Linked DNA regions of Homo sapiens: region 2 is linked to region 1. Evidence: fine-mapped expression QTL. Tissue or cell type: lymphoblastoid cells. Region 1 holds a variant in brackets; the other region holds the start of a gene. All regions are shown on one strand. Distances are between the middles of the regions.

What was found. PIP is the estimated chance that this variant, and not a neighbour inherited with it, causes the effect.
Region 2: it holds the start of CPAMD8, and the variant in region 1 is fine-mapped to the expression of CPAMD8 in lymphoblastoid cells (GTEx, PIP 0.92).

The regions. Positions count from the first base shown.
Region 1 is chr19:16,885,260-16,890,404 of GRCh38, reverse strand. F2RL3 (F2R like thrombin or trypsin receptor 3) reads right to left here and starts at 1,406. Exons shown (of 2, transcript NM_003950.4): 1 at 1,107-1,406; 2 at 1-832. The coding sequence starts at 1,215. RefSeq lists enhancers at 132-731, 3,822-4,322. The variant C/T (reference allele first, on the strand shown) is at 2,497.
Region 2 is chr19:17,023,725-17,028,869 of GRCh38, reverse strand. CPAMD8 (C3 and PZP like alpha-2-macroglobulin domain containing 8) reads left to right here and starts at 2,060. Exons shown (of 42, transcript NM_015692.5): 1 at 2,060-2,319. The coding sequence starts at 2,228. RefSeq lists an enhancer at 980-1,888.

The DNA.
Region 1 (5,145 bases):
GCGCTGGGGCTCGGGTCCGAGTAATGCAGCAGCAGCAGCAGGTTGCTGGGCACGAAGAAGGCCACGGCGGAGGCCAGCACCACTGCGGTCAGCCTCAGCGCGTGGCCGTAGCGCCGGCCGCTGGCCGCCAGCGTGTGCAGGGTGGCCCCGTAGCACAGCAGCATGGCCAGCAGGGGCAGGAAACAGCCCAACAGCGCCAGGCAGGTGAAGGCCGGTTGCCAGTGGGAGGCCTGTGCGTCCAGGGGCAGCGCGTCATGGCAGAGCACGCGATCGGAGCGCGCCAGCCGGAAGGTCTGCCGCTGCAGTGTCAGGGGCAGTGCCAGGGCGGCCGCCATGAGCCAAGCAGCCATGCAGAGTCCAAGGGCCAGGCGCCGGCCACGCAGGGCGCGGGCCCGCAGCGGGTGCACCAGGGCCAGGTAGCGATCCAGGCTGACGGCGGCCAGCAGCAGCACTGAGCCATACATGTGACCATAGAGTGCGGCCGTGGCCAGGCGGCAGGCGGCCTCCCCGAAGGGCCAGCGCTGGCCACGCAGGTGGTAGGCGATCCGCGGGGGCAGCGCCAGGGCCAGCAGGAGGTCAGCAGCCGCGAGGTTCATCAGCAGCATGGTGGAGGGCAGCCGAGGTGCCTGCGTGGCCAGCACCCACAGCGCCAGCCCATTGGCCGGCAGCCCCACCACCAGGACCAGCCCATAGAGGGCGGGCACCAGCCTGGTGGGCACCCAGCCCAGAAGCAGTGCCCGTGAGCTGTCCGGGAGCTCCAGGGTGTCACTGTCATTGGCACAGACTTGGCCTGGGTAGCCGCGGGGGGCAGGCAGGATTGAGGGCGTGCTGTCTGGGAGAGAGAGGGGACCTCAGTCAGCCCCTGCCTCGGCAGGTGACGAGAAGCAGCAGGGAGGGAGGTGCTCAGAGCCTGGGGTCTGCCCTGGTGGGAAACAGCTGGACATGACACTCAAGGGAATAGCCCAGCCCTATGGGGTCAGAGACGGGATACAGAGTGGGCTGGGCTGAAGCCCGCAACTTCCCGGCCTCCCCCTCCCCAGCTCCGGGCCCCCAGCTCCATCTCTGATGTAACCCCATCTCTGCACCCCAAAGCCAGGACCACTCACCATCACCACCTCCGGTGCTCCCGCTCTCGTCGTAGACGCTGGGGGTCTGGGTGCCGCCAGACAGGCTGAACCCCAGCACCAGGGGCCACAGGAGCAGTCGCCCCCACATGACTGCACTCAGGCTGCTCTGGGCTGTGGCCTCAGGCTTCCTGCCTCGCCGGACCCTGAGCCCCAGCTTCTGGAGCCGAGGCGGACGAGCAGATCGCGCCGGTAGAGATAAACCAGGAAGGCTGCCCCTGCCCCCGCAGACCCACCAGGGCCGCTTGCCAGCCAGCCCGTGGGAGGACTGGAGTGTGGGTTATGGAGACCGGGCTGCCCCACGTGGCTATATCCAGTGTGGCGCCTCCCAGGGACCCAGGTGCCAGGCCAGCAAGATGCAGGGGGGGGGGTCCCAGCTGCAGCCAGCACCCCCGGTCCCTGACCAGCCCAGGAAGCATCTGCGGTTCAAGTGGCCACTTCCTGCCAGCCGCTCACATCTGCAGCCACTGTTCTCACGACAGCCCTGTCCTCACCCCAATCCCCACGCCCATCACGGGCTCTGGGCCTTTCCTGAAGTCACCCCCCGACTTCCTATCTCTGGTGAGCAGGATAAGAAGAGCCCTGCTAGGCCAGGCACGGTGGCTCACGGCTGTAATCCCAACATTTTGGGAGGCCAAGGCAGGCAAATCACCTGAGGTTGGGAGTTTGAGACCGGCCTGACCAACATGGAGAAACCCCATCTCTCATAAAAATACAAAAATTAGCTGGGCTTGGTGGCAGATGCCTGTGGTCCCAGCTACTCAGGAGGCTGAGGTGGGAGAATTGCTTGAACCCAGGAGGTGGAGGTTGCAGTGAGCCGAGATCTTGCCACTGCACTCCAGCCTGGGCAACAGAGCGAGACTCGGCAAAAAAAAAAAAAAAAACCAAGGATGGGCGCCTCCCAGAGGGTAATAGCGAGGGTCCCTTCAGACCCCCAGAGCAGCACGAGCCCAGCGTCAGGGACTCTGGCTGAACCTCGAGAGCCCCTCAGCATCCTCGGCTGACCCCATACTCACAAGGCACCCCTGTATGAGTGCCTCACTTCACTCTTGCCCAGGGGACACACGGGCATCTGTAGGGGAGACAGTGATGCTGGGGACAGCACCTGCCGAGGACCGGGGGGACTTCGGGGTGTGTGGCTCGCCTGCTCTGACCTCTGACCCTGAGTGAGGTGGCCAGGTTGAAGGGTCCCCAAGCCAGCCTCCAGGGGGCCTCCCTCCTCTAGCCCCAGCACATCCCCACTCCTGGGTACCATTGGATGGGGGCTCATCGGGCAGATGAAGAAACTGAAGCTCGGGGGGGTACCCCTTCCCTCTTCTGCACAAGGCCCCTCAGTGTTGTCCCTCCCTGCCTCAGAGAGGCCTCAACCCGT[C/T]GTGCCCTGGGGGAGTCTGGTATGGGTGGTTCTGGCCCCAGTGTGCTCAGCGCTGGGCTACAGGGGATGGGGGACAGGGCTTGGGGGGGTCTGGGAGCAGGAGGGCCTAGTTGGGAGCCATGAGGATTGGGGAAAATAAAATGAACTAGGGATGGGGGAGGGAGGGGTCCAATGTGGCCGTTTCCTGCCTGGGGGAGCCCTAATCTCATCACACACTTGAGCACTCGGGGATCAGCCAGGAAGTGACTGAGCAGAGTCTTGGACAGAGTCAACACCCAGCTCCAGGAGGAGACACTGAAGCCTGGAGAGAGAGTCTAGCTGGGGCAGGGTCTCAGAGGCCCTGCTCCCATTTCTGGGCAGTTTCCATGGCCACCAATGAGAAAATCAGCTTCACGTCAATGACTTGGGGAAAAAGGTGGCTGAGGACACCCTCAGCACACGGAAAACCCACGCCTGGGCTCCCCCCTCCACCGTCTTCTCTGTGAGCAGAGTGGGAAGCTGTGCAGGGGAGGCTGGGCACACCGGCAGTCCAGTGATGCTGGGGCAGGGTGGTTTGAAGATGATGCATCAAAATAGTGATGCACGACCGGGCGCAATGGCTCACGCCTGTAATCCCAGCACTTTGGGAGGCCAGGTGGGTGGATCACGAGGTCAAGAGATCGAGACCGTCCTGGCCAACATGGTGAAAACCCGTCTCTACTAAAAATACAAAAATTAGCCAGACATGGTGGCGCACGTCTGTAGTCCTAGCTCCTCAGGAGGCTGAGGCAGGAAAATCTCTTGAACCCAGGACGCAGGGGTTACAGTGAGCTGAGATCACACCACTGCACTCCAGCCTGGGCAACGGAGCGAGACTCCGACTCAAAAAAAAAAAAAAAAAAAAAAAAAAGCCAGGCACAGTGGCTCACACCTGTAATCCCAGCACTTTGGGAGGCAGAGGCGGGTGGATCACCTGAGGTTGGGAGTTCGAGACCAGCCTGACTAACATGGAGAAACCCCATCTCTAGTAAAAATACAAAATTAGCTAGGCATGGTGACATATGCCTGTAATCCCAGCTGCTCGGGAGGCGAGGCAGGAGAATCACTTGAACATGGGAGGCAAAGGTTGCAGTGAGCCGAGATTGCATCATTGCACTCCAGCCTCACTCCAGCCTGGGCAACAAGAGTGAAACGCGTCTCAAAAAAAAAAAAAAAACATAGTGACGCACATGCCCTTATACTCAAGGGTTCCATGTCTAGGAATTTCTGCCAGACACACGCACAGGAAGATGTCCTTGGGAGGATATCCACACAGCAGCACAAAGCAGGGAGGTGCCCGCCAACAGCCCCTCCCCGGGAACAACACGGCAGCACAGGCTGTCGGGGGAACCCCAGCAAGCAGAGGTGACGATGACATTGCCCCTGTCAGGCACAAGCTGTACCCAGGCGACACTGCCCAGGTACTTCCCGGAGGACGCTGGGCGCGACAGCTTTGGAGGAGAGGAAACCATGTGTCTGTTTTGTACTGTTGGAGTTTTCTGTGCACTGTGTTACTTTCCATAAAAACTTTTTTTTTTTTTAAGATGGAGTCTCGATCAGTCGCCCAGGCTGGAGTGCAATGGCGCAATCTCAGCTCACTGCAACCTCTGCTTCCTGGATTCAAGCAATTCTCCTGCCTCAGCCTCCCCAGCAGCAGGGATTACAGGCGCCTGCCACTATGCCCGGCTAATTTTGTGTATTTTTAGTAGAGGCGGAGTTTCGTCGTGTTGGCCAGGCTGGTCTCAAACTCCTGACCTCAGGTGACCCACCTGCCTCAGCCTCCCAAAGCACTAGGATTATAGGCATGAGCCACTGCACCTGGCCAAAATATTTTTTATTTAGAGATGGAGGTTCGCTCTTGTTGCCCAGGCTGAAGGTGCAATGGTGCCATTTCGGCTCACTGCAACCTCTGCTTCCTGGATTCAAGCGATTCTCCTGCTTCAGCCTCCCGAGCAGCTGGGATTATAGGCACCCGCCACCATGCCTGGCTAATTTTTGTATTTTTGGTAGAAACGAGGTTTCATCATGTTGGCCAGGCAGGTCTCAAACTCCTGACCTCAGGTGATCCACCCGCCTCAGCCTCCCGAAGTGCTGGGATTACAGGCGTGAGCCACCACGCCCGGCCAAAATCTTATTTTCTTAAAAAGGGCAGACAGCCAGGCCGGGCTGTTTCAGAGTGGTGGCTCATGCCTGTAATCCCAGTGCTTTGGGAGGCCGAGGTAGAGGGATCGCTTGGGCTCAGGAGTTCAAGACCAGCCTGGGCAACATAGTGAAATCTTGTCTCTACAAAAAATCAAAAAATGAGGTGGGAAGATTGCTTGAGCCCAGGAGGTCGAGGCTGCAGTGAGCTGTGATTGCACCACTGCACTCCCACCCGGGTGACAGAGTGAAACTCTGCCAAAAAAAAAAAAAAAAAAAAAAAAAAAGGCAGCCTTAAAAAGTAAGGGAATTCTGACATATGCTACATTGTGGATGAATCTTGAGGACATTATGCTGAGGGAAATAAGCCGGTCACGGAAAGACAAATCCTGAGTCATTCCACTCATGGGAGGTCCCTGGAGTGGTCACCTCCATAGAGACAGGAAGTAGAATGGGTTGGGGGGTGCCAGAGGCTGGGGGAGGGGGATTGGG
Region 2 (5,145 bases), 140 kb before region 1:
CCCTGAAGGTGGAGGAGAGCAGCCGGTCTTGTGATGCCACGGGGAAGTGCATCCCAGGCAGAGGGGACAGCTGGCACCTTGGCCCAAGATGGTGGTGGTGGGTGGGGGTCTGATGTATCTCAGGAGCAAATGTGGCCAGAGCCCAATGGTCAAGGGGGAGGCGGAGGGCTCAAAGGCTGGCCTGGAGGCTGAGGAGTGGAGGTTGGCTTAGGTAGGAGTCAGAGTTGGCCTGGAGGGGCCCGGAGGGGTGGCATGGGGCAAACTTCGATGATGAGGGTGAGATCAGATGCTGCTTCTTGGTGCTAGATTTTTGCACCTCCATGTGAGTTTAGCAGCCTGTTTGGGGTTGGCCTGGTCTGAGCTTGGAGGCAGGCAGCTCCTCCTCTTCTCCAGGCAGGAGAGACGGCTACTCAATCTACTCCGGCCCCTGCGCGCGTGCACGCACACACACACACCAACACACCATCATCAGTTACGTCCCCTCTGGGTTGTGTGCTCAGTGGCAGCAGGTCCTGTATGTCCCAGGGTCCTCATTGCCCAGCCCAGGGCTTGGTGCTGCCTGGGTGATCAGTGTTGGGTCCAAAGGCTGTTGACAGGGCTGAGAAGCCCCCAGAGGACCCACATCCCTAGGGGCAGGGAGGGGGCAAGAGAAGCTTCCCTTGAGTTTCCTGGAAGGATCAGGAGTTGGACTGGCAAAGGAGGCAGGTAGAGGAAGACAGAGATTAGGCAGAAGCAGGCAGTGGAGTAAGAACAGGGTGTTGGAGGAACTAGGCTGAGGTCTCTGCCATCAAAGCCAGAGTTTAGATTTGGTCTCAATAAACGGGAAGCCCTGGCTGGATGTGGTGGCTCACACCTGTAATCCCAGCACTTTGGGAGGCTGAGGAGGGAGGATCATTTGAGCCCAGTGCTCAAGACCAGCCTGGGCAACACAGTGCGACTCCGTTTCTAAAAAAAAATATATAAAAATTAGCTGGGTGCGGGCTTGCACCTGTAGTCCCAGCTACTCTCCAGGAGTCTGAAGCTGCAGTGAGCTGTGACTGCACCACTAAATTCCTGCCTGGGCAACAGAGCAAAACTCTGGTCTCAAAACATAAAAATAAAATGTAAAATAAACAGGGAGCCCCGAGGATTCCGGGCAGGAGGGGGTGTGGTCAGCACTGGAATTTTAGAAGAAGGGCAGTTGGTAGCTGGGGGAAGGGGGTTCCACACTGGAAGGAGGGGGTCCAGGACTTGGACATGGTATAGGATGTGCCGCCTGCCAGTGGGACCTAGGACAGCAGGACCATCACTGAGGTGGCCACACGGGGAGGGGCAGGAGGGGACACCCTGCTCTTGGAGAGAAAGGGGGTGCCCATCCACCCCTGCTGTATGAAGGGGAAAGGGGGACTCTGAGGCCCAGCGAGAGAGGGGACGGGCCCAAGGGATTTGTGGACAGTGGGGGTGGGGGAGAGGGGAGCAGAGAGCACAGATAGGGACCTGGGGCAGATGTGAGTCTGGGAGGTTCGACCCCTGGCTAGACTGTTTCCCCAAAGGGTCCTCTGCTCCTTGGGCTGTACGCACTGCACTGGGCACTAGATACAGGCCAGGGCTTAGGGCACGGCGGCGCCTGTGGGATCGGGGTTGCAGGCGGCGTCCAGACCCAGGGGCCCCTGGTGAGGGGCGGGCCCGGGGAGGGGGCCATAAGGGGCTGGCTGGGGAGGGAGGGAGGGAGAGGCCAGGGAAGGGACAGGTTCCGAGTGGACGCTGGGTGGAGAGGAGAGGGAGAGTGGGGGCGGTGGGGGGTCGGGTCCGAGGCGGGGCTGGTGGGGAGGGGGGCATCCGGGGGCGAATCCGGGTAGGGGGTGAGGAGGCGGGTTCGGAAGGAATCGGGCAGGGCCCGGGTGGGTCCGGTGAGTAAGTGAGGGGACGATCCCCGGAAGGGATCGGGGCGGGTCGGGGTCCGGAGATGGGCGGAGCAGGCGTCCCGGGAGGGTGCGCCCAGGAGCGGGGCGAGCGGGGCGAGCGGGGCGGTCCCGGAGACGAGGCGGGTCCGGGGAGGGGGCTGGCCCGGGGCTGCCCCAGCTTGGCCGGGCGCGGAGCGGGGCGCATGGCGCCGGGCGCACTGCGCGGGGGCTGCGAACAAAGGGCCCCCGGCGGCGGCGCGAGGACGGCCGCGCTCGGACCCTGGCCCTGGCCCAGCCCTGGCCCGGCCCCCTCCCCAGGCGCGGCGCCCCCCAGGAGCCGAAAAATGAGCGGCGCCCTGCTCTGGCCGTTGCTCCCGCTCCTGCTCCTGCTGCTGTCGGCGCGGGACGGCGTGCGCGCCGCGCAGCCTCAGGCCCCGTGAGTATCCTCCGGCGACAGAGGAGGTCGGTCGCCTTCTGGGGTGGGGGTCGCGGGTACTGGCTCAGAGTGTTGCAGCGACCTGCCCAAGGCCACACAGCCTCCGCGCTGGGCTGGACCTGGCCTCTTGTTCCCGAATCGTCTTGAGGAGGGGGCGCCCTAAAGTTTCCGAAGTGGCTCTGTGGAGGTACAGGGACTCCCAAAAGCTAAAGGTGCTGAGGTCAGCTCCCCCCGCCCCACCTCGCCCCCTTCGTGTGACCCGGGCTGTCATCATGGGTGGCGATTTCCAGTTGTCCAAGGTATGAAGGTAAGAGGAGCGTCTTGGCTGAGAAGTGGGAGGAGAGTGCGAAGGGGCACTTTCCCGTGGGTGGGCGTGGTGAGGGAGGAGGAAGTGTTTGTTTTGCTTCTACATTTTTCTAGAGGTTTGCTTGCAGGCTTCTGGTGGGTTGACAGCGGGGAGAAGGTGAATTAACTAACTGCTGGGGAGTACTGCTAAGTTGGCTTCACAGAGAATATTTCTAAACCTGGCAAGTTCGGGTGAGCTCTGCAGGGCTGCGGGTTCAGGGGGGCTGCCCTGGTCTGCACAAGACCAGCCTTTTAGTCCAGCTGGGCGTTTAGAAGGCGGCTTGTTCAAGCAGCCCTTGTTTAGGAGTTTCCAGAAAACTGGTAAGCAGTGAGACTAGGTGGGTGTCGTTATTTGCAGTGAGTAGTTGGTCCTTGCTGGTCACAGTTTTAAAAGCAAGACAGTCTACTGCGCTCTGAGCATCCAGACTTCCCTCTCCTAGGCTTCGTGAAATCGGAACCCTACAAATTTTCATCCTAATGCTTCTTTCAAAGCTGGCATCCCTTAGAATAGTGGTTCTCAGCCCTGGGGGGGATTTTTGTCTCCCTGAGGCCGCTGGGAAATGTCTGGAGGTATTTTTGGTTGTCACAAATAGGGAGAGGCATTTGGTGTTGGCATTAAGTGGGTGCAGGCCAGGAATGCTGGTAAACAGCTTTCGATGTGCAGGTCAGCTTCCACTGCAAGGAATGACGCGGCCCCACATGACAGACCTTGGCTCCAATGAGAGACCCTGCCTTATACAGAGGTTTTTGTTTGTTGTTTGTTGTTTTTGGGGTTTGTTTTTGTTTTTGTTTTGAGATGGAGTTTTACTCTTGTTGCCCAGGCTGGAGTGCAATGGCACGATCTTGGCTTACTGCAACCTCCGCCTCCCAGGTTCAAATGACTCTCCTGCCTCAGCCTCCTGAGTAGCTGGGATTACAGGCGTGTGCCACCACACCCGGCTAATTTTTTGTATTTTTAATAGAGATGGGGTTTCTCCATGTTAGCCAGGCTGTTCTGGAACTCCTGACCTCAGGTGATCCACCCACCTCCGCCTCCCAAAGTGCTGGGATTAGAGGCGTGAGTCACCGTGCCTGGCCCGTTAGAGAGTTTTAAACAGTTCTCCAGGGCGTTTTCCTCTGACTAAAGTCACCCTGTGATCTTACCATCTGTTAAGTGACATGGAATCCCTGTGCTGAGAGACACACTGGGGAAGAGATGTCCCCAAATGACCGACCTGGGATTCCAGATTAGCTGGCCTCTAAGCCAGGGGCATGGTTCACCCAGCCCAAAGGATCTCGTCTTAGGAATAGCTCTGGATGCCCACTTCTGTCACCTGAGAGATTTTTGTGTGAGGAATCTCTGATCCCAGAAAGCAGCACAGTTTGCAGTTGTAAGAGCAATTCTGTCTACACTGACCCAGACATCCCTTTCCCCAATCTGGGACCTTCTGAGACCAGCAGGATGAGAAGCAGTGTTGGCCCAGATGCTAGGGGTGGGTCAGGTGTGACAGTGAATGGCTGGCAAGCATCCCAACAGCTGGAAACAGCTGCAACTTCTGAATGGCAGGGAAACTTAATTTGGTGATGTCAGTTTCTCTGGGCAGTTGGATGAAGACTTGAACCCGTATTGTCAGGAGTTTCAAAGGTGACCAAGCAAAATGAACACGTATTCCTTACTCTCTCTTCTACACTCACCATGTACTATATGTGAGGCCCGTCTAAACTCTAGGGATCAGCTGGGAGCCAGACAGAAAGAGTATTCCCCTTTTAAAGGATGCCACATTCCAGTGCTGGAGCTGGACAGGACACCTGGACAGGGTAATTGCATGTCCTGGTCAGTGCTGGAGTTATGTAATACACAGCACATACCCAGGGTCTTGCAAACTCCAGTTGGTCCTAGAGTTGGACAGCACATGTGTGATCCCAGGGGACTGAACTCTGGTAATTATTCAAGGCAGATGTAGCACACTATGATCACAGGGTCAGTGCACACTGTGGCCAGGGCTGCAGTAAACAACCCAAACCCATTGTTCGTGTGCATGAAACAACACAAACCCACTGCGTCTTTTGAGATGCAAAATTGGTAATGATGTTTTCATGAAGTTTGGTTTATCAGTGAGTTATTTTATGGATCTTATTTTTGGTATCTTACTCAAGAAATCTTTGCCTAATCTAAGCATGCAATGACTTTCTCCTTTGTTTTCTTCTAGTGTTTCTACAAGTTTTACTTCTTCAATTTAGATCTGTTACTAAGATTAACTTTGAGTTAATCTAATTGCATGGTGTGAGGTAATGTTCTCAATTCATCTTTTTGCATGTGGATGTTGGGTTGTTCTAGAGACACTATTGAGGCCAGGTGCAGTGGGCCTGTAATCCCAGCACTTTGGGAGGCCAAGGTGCGCAGATCACTTGAGGTCAGGAGGTCAAGACCAGCCTGGCCAACATGGTGGAACCCAGTCTCTACCAAAAATACAAAAATTAGCTGGGTGTGGTGGTGCACGC